Homo sapiens: one gene and its partner. Each later gene encodes a partner of the first gene's protein in a complex. Each region holds a gene or a part of one and is shown on either strand. Other genes may lie near its edges. The genes, in order: GHRHR and GHRH.

Region 1 (7,825 bases):
TGAGGCAGGAGAATGGCGTGAACCCGGGAGGCGGAGCTTACAGTGAGTCGAGATCGCGCCACTGCACTCCAGCCTGGGCAACAGAGCAAGACTCCGTCTCAAAAAAAAAAAAAAAAAAAAAAAGCCTGTAGCAGCAGACCATCCACATCAATTTGTGAGGAAAAGAATTAATTTGGTCATTCCCTAATTGAAGAGGACTGATGATTAATGGCAGAAACAATAGCCAACACCATAGACATCTCAATCAGTTCACTCTACACAATTCCAGCAGAAAAATTAAAGTTGGGCAAACTTCCCAACTGATGGTTGCCAAAAGCATTGCACCCAGATCAACTGGAGACACGAGCAGAGATTTCAGCAGAAATTTTAAACAAGTAGGTCAAGATCCTGAAACATTTCTTCAAAGATTTGTAAGAGAAGATGAAGGATGGCTTTGCCAGTACAATGTTGAAGACAAAGCATGATCAAAGCAATGACTACAAAGAGGTAGAAGTGGTCCTGTCAAAGCAAAAGCAGACCGGTCAAGAGCAAAATTCATGATGAAAACAGTTTTGGGGATGCTTGAGGTATTTTGCAGGTTGACTTTCTGGGGAGCCAAAGAACGATAACATCTGCTTATTGTGAAAATGTTTTGAGATAGCCAAAGCTTTAGCAGAAAAATGCCCAGGAAACCTTCACTAGAGAATCCTTCTCCACCACCACAATACTCCTGTTCATTCTTCTCATCAAACAAGGCCAGTTTTGCGAGAGTTTTGATAGGAAATCATTACACATCCACCTCACAGCCATGATTTGGCTTTTCATGATGTCTTTTTGTTTTCTAATCTTAAAAAATCTTTTAAGGGCACTCATTTTTCTTTAGGTAGTAATGTAAAAAAGACTGCATTGACATGGCTAAATTCCCAGGACTCTCAGTGTTTTAGGGATGGATTACATGGTTGGTATCATTGCTTACAAAAGTGTCTTGAAAGCTTATGTTGAGAAATAAAGTTTATATTTTTTATTTTTTAATTCCATATTTCCATGAACTTTGTGAAATCCTCTTGTACAAATAGATTTAGTTCATACCTTTTAACCGCTCAGTAGTATTCCATTGTATGAATAGATCACATTTTGTTTAGCTATTCCTTTCTCATTGGACAATTGTGTTGTTTTCTGGTTTTTACTACATGTTATAAACAACACTGAACTCAGAACGCAAATACCCAGAACTGGAATTTCTGGCTTATAGGGTATGTTCATTCTTAAATTCATTAGATAATATCAAATTGTTTTTCAAAGTGGTTATACAAAATTCACTCTCATCTGCCATTTATGAATGCTCCCATTTCTTTACATTATCTTCCAGACACTGTGTTATCAGACATTAAAGTTTTAGGCAATGTATTAGGTGAAAATGGGTAGCTTATTATTATTTTTATTTTCATATTCTTTAGTATTAGGAATGTTAAACATTTCTTCATCTGTTTATTGGCCTGTATATTTCACTTCTTTTCTGAATTGTCTATTTGTATCATTTGCTCACTTTTCTGAGTTATTTTTATCTTTCTTACTGATTTTTTTCTCTTCTTTCTTTTTTTTTTTGTGACATAGTCTCACTCTGTTGCCCAGGCTGGAGTGCAGTGGCACGATCTTGGCTTACTGCAGACTCCACCTCCCAGGTTCAAGGGATTCTCCTGCCTCAGCCTCCTGAGTAGCTGGAACTACAGTTGTGCACCACCAGGCCTGGCTAATTTTTGTATTTTCAGTAGAGACAAGGGTTCACCATATTGGCCAGGCTGACCTGGTGATCCGCCCGCCTTGGCCTCCCAAAGTGCTGGGATTACTGGCGTGAGCCACCACGACCAGCTGATTTTTAGATATTTTTAAAATACATTTTTGATACTACAGATTTGTTTGTCAGGATTGGTTGCAAATATTTCTTTCAGTTTGTAGCAGAAAAATGCTTTTAGTTTTCATCTATGGCATCCTCTCTTGAACATACATTTTAAAATGTTAATGTGGTCACACTTGATTTTTTTCTTTACGATTTTTATTTTATATGACACTCTCCTTTATTCTAAGGCCATAAACATGAATTTCTATTTTTTGAAGCATTTTTATGATTTTGTTGTTTTATAATTAGGATTTTTAACCTAGAATCTATATTTTGTAAATGTGAGCTAGAGATTCAATCTTATTTTTTTGTACAAAGAATCAGCTGTTCCAATCTTACTTGCTGTTAGTCCATCTTTGTTACATGCTGTCATAAATGATTGCCCACTGGATCTAGGCTCTGTATGAGGTTCTTTATAGTACACGGCTTTCCTTGTCCACTTATCCCACCAATCCTATAAGGAAGGTGTTAGTATCATCCCCACTTTTCAGATGGGAAAACGGAGGCTCATATGGTTTGAATGTTTTGTTCTCTCCAAATCTTATGTTGAAATAGACCTGCATTGTTGGAGGTGGGGCCTGGTGGGAGGTGTTTGCGTCATGGGGGTGGGTCCCTCATGAATGGCTTGGTGCCCTCCCCATGGTAATGAGTGAGTTCTCACTCTGCTAGTTCATGCAAGAGTTAGTAGTTTTAAAGAGCCAGCCAGACATCTCCCTTGCTCTCTTGCTCCCTCTCTCACCATGTGATACACCAGGGGTTCCCCCTTCACCTTCCAGCATGAATGGAAGCTTCTTGAGGCCCTCACCAGAAGCAGATGCCAGTGCCATGCTTCCTGTGCAGTCTGCAGAACTGTGAGCCGCAATAAACCTCTTTTTAAAAATATAATACCAAGCCTTGGGTATTCCCTTATAGCAATACAAATGTACTAACACAGAGGTTCAGAAAGGCTAAATGACTTGCCAAATGTATGACAGCTAGCAAGTGATGGAGGCAGAATTTGAATCCTGAGTGTATACAGAATTAGCTAGAGAAGACAGCTCCATGAAGAAACAGGCCTGCAGGGATCCTTGGGGAACATGTACAGTTAGAGCAGGGTTTCTCAGCCTTGGTCTTATTGATCTTTGAGACTGGATAATTCTTCATATGATCAAGGGTGGGGGCATCCTGTGCATTGTAGATGCTTAATAGCATCCCTGGTCTCTACTCATTCGATACCAGGAGCAACTCACCACCCCACTCCTCACCCTAACTCCTAGTTTTTATTTTGATAACAAAAAATGTCTCCAGACATTGCCAAATGTCCCCTAGGGAAGCAAAATTGCTCCAGGTTAGGAACCACTCGTTTAGACAGTAATAACTATTATTAATTATCACTATCAACCTCAATAATTAGCCATCATTAATGCTAATGATATTGATGCTAATTATCAACAGTGATTAATCGTAAGACTTTTTTTTCCTGGTGCTGTTGCTTCTTTGTAGCTGAGGAACAGAAGGTTCTAGCTTTCCCTTCAAGTTATACCTTTTCAGCACTCTGCTTTTCCAACCCGTGAGCTCTCAGCCTGCCAAGAGAGGAGCTCTGCTCTCCCCTAAAAGTGTAAAAGTGTGCAGAGCTCTGTGTGGCATGCTGCTTGCACCCATTTCACAGTTAAGCTCATGAAAACACTTGCACAGGATAGGAGGGTTTTGGAGCTTGGGGTGGTTCATGTTTTTGTTTCGAAATATTTTTTTTTCAGTATTTTGTTGACAATGAAGAAAAATGGAAAAATAAACCCCTGCTGATGTCAAAATAAGCCCTAAATCCAGATGTAGCGGGGGCGAGGAGCCTTCAACATTCATGATGTGATCGGGCTGTAAACATGTCTGGTGTTCTAGCACGCAGCCCAGCAGCTTCTGTGAGTGGAGACGTGCACACAAACATCAGGACCTGTCGGCTACTGGGATATTCAGGTCTTTCAGAGGTGACATCTTTGACATTTCAAAGTGCTGTGCAAGATCCAGGGGCATTTAGAACACTGTCTTTAGCCTGGCCAATGGAGACCCTGCATTTTAAAGTCTAAAACTATAATAAAAGTGACCAGGCAATGAATGTTCAATATAGTTTGCTGTGTAAGTCTTCTCATTTCTGCTACCGATGAGAGTTGTCCTCCCCCTATTCAAGATGGCTTGACCCATGAATCCTTCACAAGGCTTCCAACCAACCTCATTTTCCCCTTTTGCCGTGAGAGTTTTGGAGAGATTTTGATAAGCCCCCATGTGAAATCCAGAGCCTTGATGCTTGCAGCTTCAGCTCACCATCCAGGCCAGCGTCCTTGCCCAGTAAAGGACCCAGGTCTTGCTGAAATGACACATTCCTGGCCAGCCCATGCCAGTGCTTACAGATCATACTTCCTTTCCTAAGACCATTCCAACCCTCCATCTCCACTAATACCATACCCTTCCCCTTCCCCACCAGTTCCACACAGCTCTGACCTCACTCTCCAGCCCTGTGGATGAGGCTAGGAGCACACATCAAATAACCTGGGAGCTTCCCAAGGGCAGGCCCAGGTCCCCTTCCTATTCTTTAAGATCCCATCAATCTGAGGGGTCACTCCAATGATGGCCACCAGAGACCTGGGCTTAGAGAAGAAAGTGGTAGAGAATATTGACCAAGTGACCTGTGGCTGTCACCTCTCTGGGCCCTTGCTATCAGGACAGACACACAAGCAGACTTATAGCCAGAGTAGAAGGCGATGAGGGTGGGGGCTCAGCCCCTGCCTGCTGGAAACAGAGTCCCACCTCAGGGTCAATGCTGAGCTGGGCAGGTGTCCTGCAATCCTGGTGAATATTCAGCGGTCTGTGTCCCCTTGGCTAGCTCCTGCCTATGCAAACAGCCACCTGAGAAGGGGAAGCAGAGGGTGCGGTGGAAACGGCTGTGTCAGGGGACAGCAGGGGAAGGAAGATAGCCAAGGCTTACTGAGGCTGGTGGAGGGAGCCACTGCTGGGCTCACCATGGACCGCCGGATGTGGGGGGCCCACGTCTTCTGCGTGTTGAGCCCGTTACCGACCGTGAGTAGCCAGCTGAGACCCTCTGGCCTCTGCCACTGGGCTCCAGATTTGGGAGCCACAGGGCCAACTGGAGCCTGGCGGAGACCCTACTGCCCTTCTCCTGCTCTAGAGTCCCTCCCTACGAGCAGGTGGCAGGCTGTGGCTTGGAGAGCCCCTGACACTGGGGCTCCCTCCCTCATCTCCCTCTGCCCAGCAATCTGTAGTGACTCTGGGTAGTGCTATTAACATGTCCTTCCAGGGGCTGAGCTGAGCTCACCTTCTTGTTGCTTCCCCCAGGGCCTGGCTGTGCCTCTGGGGGCCACAGAGACTCTGTCTGCCACAAGACAGTGCCTCAGAATTGGTGAGGCAAAGTCAGGCTCCCCTCTTAGTCCCTGCAGTTTGCTCTTTCTCTCAGCTGTGCACCTGTGATGCTTCCACACGCTCCTGTGGTAAGCTTTCTGGACCCTTCCTTAGCCCTATGACTCCCTGAGCCACTCTCCAGTTTGGTGGTTTCCTTTGAAGAGGGTGTGGCCAGGGAAGGAATGGAACCTAAGGAGTTGGTGGAGACCAGCTGCTTCTGCTCCAGCACTTAGGGGATCCATCATCTTCTCACGATGCTGAGGGCTGGAGAGGCTTTTGGCAACCAAATTGTACTCCATGGGCTAGAGCGCTGGAGCACGGGGCATCAGGAGAGAGGGCCCTTCCTGAATGGGCTGCAGTTTCCCAGTAACTTTCCAGGAGGTTACTGCAAGTGACAGCAGGGACCAGGCTGGGAGTCACAAGGTTCTGGGATGGTGAGGGCCTGAAGCATTCTTCCTCCGCTGCCTTATTGGAGGGTGCTGCCCCTCCCGAGCACCTTGCTGCACCTGCTCCTGAGTGCACAGGCTTTGAGCTTGAATCCTGGACGCATGAAACTAGCCGTGTGAACTGCAAGTTCCTCAGCCTTCCTGAGTCTTGCTTTTATCTCTTTTGTTAAAAGAGAAAATATCCGCTGGCCCGGGTCACTGTGCATTGAGTGGAATCTGATTTGTCAAGGGCTGGGCATAGGGGTGCAACACAGGAAACTTCGACTGCCCCCCTGTCTGCCATCTGTGTGCACTCTACAGCAAAAGCTTTATTTTTAGCAGGGGTACCCAAGATCTGGTGGTGGCCATTCAGCAGATGGTGCTAGTACCAAAGCTAGAACTCAATCACTGTTTGCCAGTGTGGGCATCATCCCCTGCAGATACCAGGAAGAGCAGCAGGCATAGATGCAAGGCCTGGGGGTCCAGGGCGATGGAGCCTCCCCTCAGGGGTGGGTGGGGTCCACGATGTGTGTGGGGGGGTGACTGGGAGCCCCAGGATGTGTTTCGCCAGTCCTAATTCAGCAGGAGCATTTGGATAAATCTTAGAACGATCTATCCTTCCACTCCCACCACTTCCCTCCCTAGAATCTCTCCTTACATCTGGCCCTATGCCCACACATCCTGAGTCATTAGTGGGGCTTCTCTGAATTTCCCTCCTTCTCTTAGAGGTGTGGGCACTGTCTGTTCATCCTTTTGGCATGAGGCTGCTCTCCTGGCATCCTTTGCCCTCAGTTGCTTCCCCAAATTGGCCCTGAAAAGTTTCCCAGGCAGGGTTGGGGCTTGCCAGACTGTGCAGTAGGCAGAAGGATAGGCAGAGACCACAGCTCTTCCAACAGCCCAGGGTCAATATCAGGCTGATGGTGTGAGAAAGTCCCATACAGGCCCATCTGCCCTCCTGCTCTTCCTTCCCCGCTTTGTGCGCTCAGTCTGTTGGGAGATGTAGGGGAGACGCAACGGGGCTCTGCCCTGAGATGGACCTGAGGTTACTGAGTCCTCGGGAGGAAGCCAAGAGCTGAGTCCGGGGCACCCACCAAAATAAGACCTGGAGCCTGGGTAGTGGGTGACATCTGCACCCTGGGGCCTTGCAGGGCCAGGCAGGAGATGGCAGAGCTGCGTCCAAGCCATGGACCCATGGGGTCAGCAGGGCGGGACAGGAGTGACTTCTCCTGCCAGGGTAGCACTGGTGGGGGTGACCCTCCTTACTGGGCTGGCTCTCCAGATTTTCTCCTATCCCACAAATCTGCGGCAGAGCTCTCGGGTCTCTCCACGTGGTCACCCACCATCTATTGTCCCCACTCTGGTGGTCAAAGTCTCTACTCTCTGACCCCAGCCCTGGTCTTACATCTGCTACACTATTTGCTGTGCCTGCATTTCTCCCAAAGAACACTAGCTGTTAATTAAACATTTGCTGACATGGATCCTGCTAGACATTGAGGGTGTGTGTGTGTGGGGTGGGGGTGGGGGCCATGGGGAGAGAAACATTAGTCCTGAGCTGATACTTCCCAAATACACCTTTTCCCACTTCCCTTGTCCTTGCACATGCTGTGCTTTCTGTTCCAGATGCTCTTCTCCCCACTGTGTGTGTCTGGCTCTAAAAAATGCTCCCTTGTCCCCAGGTCCAGCTCAAATGCCACCTCCCCAATCCCTGTGAGAGGGACATTCCCTCCCATGGTACCTGTCTTGCTTCTTTTTGTTTTTTTTTTGTTTTTCTGAGATGGAGTCTCACTTTATCGCCCAGGCTGGAGTACAGTGGCACAATCTCAGCTCACTGTAACCTCCGCCTCCTGGGTTCAAGTGATTCTCCTGCCTCAGCCTCCTGAGTAGCTGGGATTACAGGAGCGTGTCATCACACCCAGCTAATTTTTGTATTTTTGTAGAGATAGTGTTTTGCCACATTGGTCAGGCTGGTGTTTAACTCCTGACGTCAGGTGATCCGCCTACCTTGGCCTCCCAAAGTGCTGGGATTACAGGCATGAGCCACTGCGCCCGGCCCCTGTCCTGCTTCTGATCACAGTTTGCGCAGGGTCTATTAGGATCCAGCCCTTCTCCCTTCCCCAGCCCCTCCTCTCCTGTGAAA
Region 2 (7,725 bases), on another chromosome or scaffold:
TATTTTGAGAGCGGGTCTCACTCTGTGGCCCAGGCTGAGGTGCAGTGGTGCAATCATAGCTCACTACAGCCTCAAACTCCTGGGCTCAAGCAATCCTCCTGCCTCAGCCTCCTGAGTAGCTGGGACAGCAGGCATGTGCCATCATGCCCAGCTAATTTTGAAATTTTTTGTAAAGATAAAGTCTCACTATATTGCCGAGGCTGGTTTCAAACCCCCGGGCTTAAGTGATCCCCCCGCCTCAGCCTCCCAAAGAGTTGAGCTTATAGGCATGAGCCACAATGCCAGGCCCAGGCAGTTCTTATTGTTAGGAAGTTTGTCTCACCATGTCAAGCCCAAATCTCCTTCTCCTGCAAATGTTTGTTAAGCCTCTACTGTTCCGGTAAGGACTGGGGCTAGAGAAAAGATGAGAACACGGGATCTACCCCGAGGGCTGGCTGTGTAACATCCGCCTGCTGGGCTGGAGCCTCTGCACCTACAGCCACACGACTGGTCCTTTAGATATGTTCCGCATGTCTGACTTAAGCTTTTGTTCCTCAGACCAAGGCTCGGCAGGCTTCCGTCCTCCTCATCGCACCATACCACGTCTGGTCCCCCTTCTCCCCACCTGGTCCAGGCTGCCTCTCCAGAAGTGGAATTTCCTAAGCCGAGAGATCTCTGGATGCAAGCAGGGCCCCTTGACAGAAACCACTGCCTTTTCTGTCTCCCAGCTGCAGCCTGGCTTTCTTGCCTTCTTTGCTGCTGATCTTTTAAAGATTCAGGCAGATCTAGGTCCCCAATCACCTCCCTCCCCTGCTCAGAAGCCCTTGGCTCCCCACTCCTTCCAGAATAAAGCTCAAACCCCTTCTCTTGGCTTAAGCTCTCCCTCTGCCTGCCCCTTCTCCCAAGGGCTGGCACAAGTGATTCCCAGCCCCTGTGCCCTATCAGGCTCCACAACCCATCCTTGCACTCTCCCTCTGGAGCAGGCATCCCCATGCTCCTCTTACAGCCAAGGAAAAGAGCCTAGAGAGGACAAGGACATTTTCCATGATCCTCCATCAAATTAGTTTTGGAGTGGGCACTTCAGAGTGGGCCTCCTCATTCCCAGGCCGGCAGACTTCCTTCCGCTCCATGCAGCAGCCTCCCAGGTACAATGCTCTATTCACAGTATTCCCCATTCACAGGGATCCTCAGCCTCCATCACCTGCACGTGGGAAAGGGTCTGAAAAAAAGGAAAGCTTCTTGCTCTTTGTTGTTGGGCCTCTGGGGAAGAAAGAACAGGGACAAACAGGAACACCTGCTTGATTGGCCCCTCCCTATGCACACCCAGTAGTTTCAGGGAGTTGAAACAACCTCATAGGAGGGCAGACTTTGGTGGGGAGGGCAAGTCATAGTAAACACAATACCCCGCTCATTCAAGATAAGGCTCAGCAACTGCACAAGTTAACCAAGAGGCTCAACATTTGCCACAAATCCTGTGCCCCAGGCATAGGTCAAGACCCCACAGCAACCTCTGAGCTATGAGAACCGAATCCATGGGTTTGCAGATCCCACTGGATGAAAATGGGAAACAAGAATTATCCAGTGTAGGGTAAGATAAGAAGAATAGAGGTTATGTCACTAAGGATAAAATAGCTCCAGCCTGAGCAACATGGCGAGACCCCATCTCTACAAAAAAAAAAACACACAAAACAAAACAAAAAAAAACTTATCTAGGCATGGTGGCGCATGCCTGTAGTCCCAGCTACTCTGGAGGCTGATGTGGGAGGATTGCTTGAGCCCGGGAGGTTAAGGCTGCAGTGATCCATGATAGTGCCACTGCACAGTAGCCTAAATGTCAGAGCAAGACCCCATCTCAAAGAATAAAATAAAATAGCTGTCAACAGACACATTCCACATGACAACTTAAGGAGTCAAAATTCACTGAATGAAGTGTAGCCGAGCCCAACAGCATTGCTGGCAACCCTGATGACTGAAGGCACTCCAGAGTTTATAATCTATCATTATGATCATCGGTTAGCTTCCTGCAGTGCTTACTGATTCTGGGATTAGATGTACTTGAGATTGCCTGGATTCAGGATAAACGGGCACTTGATCTACATCCGTTGGCACCTTTTGCCAGCTTTCATGCCAGGAATGCCAGGAGAATTCTGCAGATTCACCTGCAGCTGACAGAGGTCAGGTCTCAAGCACCCAAATTCGCAAGGCCATTTTTGAAAACCCAGGGAAAGAACATCTTTAACCTTCCTTGAATATCCCCCTTTGAAATTTGAGCACCCCAAAGCATAGACTTCCTGATCTGGTTTATAAACTGTTTCAGTGACAGCATTCCAAGTTAAAAGAAATCTAAGTTTTTAATGAGGAAGCATCTTGAACTGTCATTCAAAAGAGTGACACTCCACCTCCTTCCAGAAGGGGTTTGAGGCAGTCTATGGTGAAAGACACAAATACTTCAGGACCATTAAAGCAAGGATCAGGAGACAGGCGTGGGGTAGCGGAGGACTCCAAAGGCAGATAATTGTGTCTAAAACCTGGAGTAAAGAGTGTGGCTGCAATTGAGCAAGAAAGCAAAATGTTATCAATTTCCCGGCAATTACATTGAATCAGTTCTGAGTGATCAATGAGCAGTATTGATTTGCACAGCCACTTGGCTCATCTCTGATCCATGGCAGAATCCCATCGCTGACAGGAAAATCGAGCCAACTCACGTTTGCCCCCGAAGCCTGCCCACGCATCCTCGAAGGAGCACTGAGACCTCACCACCTGCGACAGACACCTGGAGCCAGTCCGCCACGCGCCCAAGTTAAGACAAGCCCCAAACAGCACCATCAAAAGCCTATTCCAGAGCCCCTATTGAGGGGTGATTTTATCCAGAGAGGGGCTCAAATGTACTCACCAGTCCATGGGCAAAGAGGATGGCGGTGGGCCTCTTGGACTCAGTGTTTCTAAGTTGGTGAGAAGGTTAACTTTTCTTACCCCCACCCAGCCTAGCCCCCCCAGGGCCACCCCTCTCACCTGATGCGGCAGATATCCCTCTGCTCCGAGGCACTGCTCAAATCCAGGGGCCCTGGGCTGGGTGTTTGCTCTGGCAGCCGCCTGGCGTTCCCATCATTTATCTCTTCATTTTCCTAAGCGTTGTCAGCGTCAGAGAATCAATTACCCACAAGTCAACCAAAGGACTGTTTTTAGCATCATATCACACTGACAAACCCTGTTGGTGAAAGAGGTTTGGCCCCTTGCAGACTTAGACTCCTGGTAAAGTCTCCTTTTATCTTTGGCACAGTGGACATAGTACAAAGGTGTAACATTATTCCAAGAGGATATAGAGAATATATACTGCTATAATAGTGATTGGAGAACTCGGCTGGGCGCGGTGGCTCACACCTGCCATCCTAGCACTTTGGGAGGCTGAGGCGGGTGGATTGCCTGAGCTCAGAAGTTTGAGACCAACCTGGGCAACATAATGAGACCCTGTCTCTAGAAAAAAATTAAAAATTAGCTGGGCATGTTGGCACATGGGTATAGTCCCAGCTACTCAGGTGGCTGAGGCAAGAGTGTCACCTGAGCCTGGGAGGCGGAGGTTGCAGTGAGCCAAGACCACGCTATGGCACTCCAGCCTGGGTGACAGAGCACGACTCTATCTCAAAATATATATTTTTTAAAAAAAGAAAAAATATGTGTTAAAAATAATTGGAGAACTCATAACAGTGAAACACCAAGAGTTTATTGATTCTCCAAGATAAATGTGCCTTTTCAAAAGTTCATATAATTTAGCTTTGTCCCTGTGTAATTTTATTTCACTTTTGGGTAGACAACATTATGAATAAGCGTTATTCTCTCCTTAGTGGGGAATTTGTTCCCTATCTCCCTTGTCGTCCAATTATCAGAATTCTGCACTATTTGATTTACACCTGCTTGGTCACAGGCTGATTTCAACAGCTAGCCTGGGGGCATCCGTCGTCACCTGTCAAGGCAGCCAGACATTGGCAGTTGCCTCAGAGAAGTGTGAAATGAGAGGGAAGAGATGGAAAACCTTGGGAGAGTTGTTGTGTTTCCAGATTTCTCTAGCCTATAGCTAAGAAATCCTCAGGAATGACATAAAAGCACAGGAGGCAGAAGCTCTGGTTTCCCAGGCGGCCGTCGTGGAGGTGTGGAAAGAGCTCCAAGCCTCGAGTCTAGGGACCTGCTGCCTCTCCCAAGCCTGTCAATCATGACCTCTGTGACCCTTAGGAAGTTACTTCTACCTGGCTGGGTGCAGTGGCTCACACCTGTAATCCCAGCACTTTGGGAGGCTGAGGCGGGTGGATCATGAGGTCAGGGGTTCGAGACCAGCCTGACCAACATGGTGAAACCCCGTCTCTACTAAAAATACAAAAATTAGCTGGGTGTGGTAGTGGGCACCTGTAATCCCAGCTACTCAGGAGGCTGAGGCAGGAGAATTGCTTGAACCCGGGAGGTGGAGGTTGCAGTGAGCCGAGATCGTGCCACTGCACTCCAGCCTGGGCGACAGAGCGAGACTCTGTCTCAAAAAAAGAAAAAAAACTTCTACCCTCCGGGCCTCAGTTTCTACCTGGAAACTTGAGAGTTGACATAGAACAGCAACTTTCAAACTATTTTTTTGAGAGGGATCCTATCTTTGCCACCCAGGTTGGAGTGCAGTGGCATAATCTCGACTCATTGCAACCTCCACCTCCCGGGTTCAAATGATTCTCCTGCCTTAGCCTCCAGAGTAGCTGGGATTACAGGTGCGTACCACCACGCCTGGCTAAGTTTTGTATTTTAGTAGAGATGGGATTTCACCATGTTGGCCAGGTTGGTCTCAAACTTCTGACCTCAGGTGATCCACGTGCTTCTGCCTCCCAAAGCACTGGGATGACAGGTGTGAGCCACCACACCCAGCCCAAACATTTTTTAAAAAGTAGCAAAACTCTTTCTTTGGAAACCTACAGAGACAGGTTTTTAATATGGGGCTACTCTGGTTGAAGAGGGGGAAGTGGAGACCCCCTTGCCTATCCCTGAGGTACCTCGATGGGTCACAATTACAAGCCAGTAATTTCCAAGAGTCCCCTTAGCAACACTATTTTGTGGTTCTCCTTCTTAGCCTGCACTGAGCCATGTTCTTGGCATCTAGCAAATATGAGATGTTTCTCATAGAAGCAAGGCTTGAGTGGTATGTCACCTTGCTGGCCAGGATACGAAGTGGTCAGGTCAGGCCAGATCCCCAAGGATTAAGAATGGGCTGATAGTGGCCAGGTGCGGTGGCTCATGCCTGTAACCCCAGCACTTTGGGAGGCCGAGGCAGGCGGACTGCCTGAGCTCAGGAGTTCGTGACCACTCTGGGCAACATGGTGAAACCCCGTCTCTACTAAAATACAAAAAAATTAGCTGGGTGTAGTGGCATGTGCCTGTAATCCCAGCTACTGGGGAGGCTGAGGCACAAGAATAGCTTAAGCCCCAGAGGCAGAGGTTGGTGTGAGCCGAGATGGCGCCGCTGCACTTCAGCTTGAACAACAGAGTGAGACTCTGTCTCAAAAAAAAAAATAAATAAAAACAGGGCGTGGTGGTTCACGTCTGTAATCCCAGCACCTTGGGAGGCTGAGGCGGGCGGCTCACGAGGTCAGGAGATCGAGATCATTCTGGCTAACATGGTGAAATCCCGTCTCTATTAAAAATACAAAAAATTAGCCGGGCGTGGTGGTGGGTGCCTGTGGTCCCAGCTACTCGGGAGGCTGAGGCAGAAGAATGGCTCAGGACCCAGGAGGCGGAGCTTGCAGTGAACCAAGATGGTGCCACTGCACTCCAGCCTGGGTGACAGAGTGAGACTCCGTCTCAAAAAAATAAATAAAATAAATAAATAAATAAAAATAAAAATAAAAATAAATGGGTTGATAGCTTTAAATTAATTATTATTATTATTATTTTATTTACTTAATTTTTTGGAGACAGGGTCTCGCTCAGGCTAGAGTGTAGTGGTGAGATCTCAGCTCACTGCAGCCTTGACCTCCTAGGCTCAAGCAGTCCCCAACCTCAGCCTCCTGAGTAGCTGGGACTGCAGTTGCACGCCACCATGCCCAGCTAATTTTGTTTATTTTTAGTAGAGATGAGATCTCACTATGTTGTCCTGGCCAGAACTCAAATATTATTTAAAAAAAAAAAGTGCAGGTCACAGCAGCAGGGAGCAGACGAAGCAGTTGGGAGCCCCAGGGCTATGGGCTCTCGCACAGTCAGGAAGTGTGGGGTAACTCCTGGAAATGCAAAGTGGGGACCATGCAGAGCTGGGCACCCAGAGTGGACGCTGGTCCAGGGCACAGATGCAGGTTACATGGAGTTGGCCGGAGAAGCCATGGGGCTCAGAATCCAGCCTCGGTTGAAACTCTGTGCCAGGCATTGTGCTACAGACTTCACGCCCTATCTCAGTTTTCTTATTTGTAAAATGGGAGTGATAGAGCTCAACTTATGAGGCTCTTGGGTGAGAATTATTGTGACATTGCATAAAGGGCAGACCTGGCATAGGGCAGAGCTCACAATTTAGCTTTGATAATTGCTGTTCTTGTCATTGCGGTAAATGAGGAAACAGGCATGAAAGGTTACGTGCTCAGCCACAGCCACAGAGCTAGTCAGTAGCTGGAAGAGCTATGACTCAAACATGTTTTCTGACTTCCTTACAGCCCCAGCTACTCAGGAGGCTGAGGCAGGAGGATCACTTGAGCCCAGGAGTTAGAGGCTGCAGTGAGCTATGTTCGTGCTTCCGTACTCCAGCCTGGGCAATGGAGTGACACCTTGTCTCTATTGAAAAAAAAAGGAAAAAAAAGTTTTCTGATTTCCAATTTGTTTGCCCCACACTAAGGCCCTTCCTGGGCCTACCAGTTCTAATTTTTTTTTTTTTTTTTTTAAAAAGAACTTCAACAGTTTGGCCGGGCGTGGTGGCTTACACCTGTAATCTCAGCACTTTGGGAGGCCGAGGCAGGCGGATTGCCTGAGGTCAGGAGTTCGAGACCAATCTGGCCAACATGGTGAGACCCTGTCTCTACTAAAAATACAAAAAAATTAGGCGGGCGTGGTGGCATGCGCCTGTAATCCCAGCTACTCGGGAGGCTGAGGCAGGGGAATTGCTTGAACCAGGGAGGTGGAGGTTGCAGGGAGCCAAGATCGCGCCACTGTGCTCCATCTTGGGCGACAGAGGGAGACTCCATCTAAAAAACAAATAAACAAACAAAAAAGAGTTAACATATCATAAAGCTCACTGGTTTTAAGTCTATGGCTCCATGAGCTTTCATACATTTATACGGTGGTGCCACCATTGCCACAATCCTGTTTTGGAATGCTTCTGTCCCTCCAAAAATTCCCTCTAGCCCATTTGCTCTCAGTCTCCACTCTTGCCCCCTGCCCTAGGCAACCCCTAATCTGCTGTCTTACAGTTTTTCCTTTGCTAGGAAATTCCTATAAATGGAATCTTTTATATGATGAGTAAATCATAATAAATCAAATAAAATACGCACTTTTTGGTGTCAGGCTTCTTTCACTCAGCATAATGTTTGACCTTCATCCATGTTGATCCAGGTATTAATAGTTTGTTCCTTTTTATTCCATTGTATGGATGTATGACTGTTTGTTTACCCATTCACCTTGATGGACATTTGGGTTGATTCCAGTTTGGGGCTAGTATGAATTATGCTGCTACGAACTTTTTTTTTTTTTGAGACAGGGTCTTGCTGTCACATAGGCTGGAGTGCAGTGGCACAATCTCAG

What was found.
Region 2: the proteins of GHRHR (region 1) and GHRH are in contact, whole or in part, in a cryo-EM structure (PDB 7CZ5), measured with the Homo sapiens proteins. Residues at the interface, in NP_000814.2 of Homo sapiens: Leu119, Ala120, Glu122, Glu123, Phe126, Ser127, Val129, Lys130, Tyr133, Val179, Lys182, Leu186, Phe187, Asp190, Thr192, Asp193, His194, Cys195, Phe197, His210, Thr213, Phe217, Ala271, Cys272, Asp274, Leu275, Asp276, Trp282, Ile285, Ile289; in NP_066567.1 of Homo sapiens: Tyr32, Ala33, Asp34, Ala35, Ile36, Phe37, Thr38, Asn39, Ser40, Tyr41, Arg42, Val44, Leu45, Gly46, Gln47, Leu48, Ser49, Ala50, Leu53.

What each region holds. Positions count from the first base shown.
Region 1 is NC_000007.14:30,959,202-30,967,026, forward strand, and holds the start of GHRHR (growth hormone-releasing hormone receptor precursor), read left to right. Parts: upstream 1-4,751; 5' UTR 4,752-4,867; coding exon 4,868-4,924; intron 4,925-7,825.
Region 2 is NC_000020.11:37,258,752-37,266,476, forward strand, and holds the start of GHRH (somatoliberin isoform 1 preproprotein), read right to left. Parts: upstream 3,064-7,725; 5' UTR 2,992-3,063; intron 1-2,991. UniProt on the Homo sapiens protein: GRF is released by the hypothalamus and acts on the adenohypophyse to stimulate the secretion of growth hormone.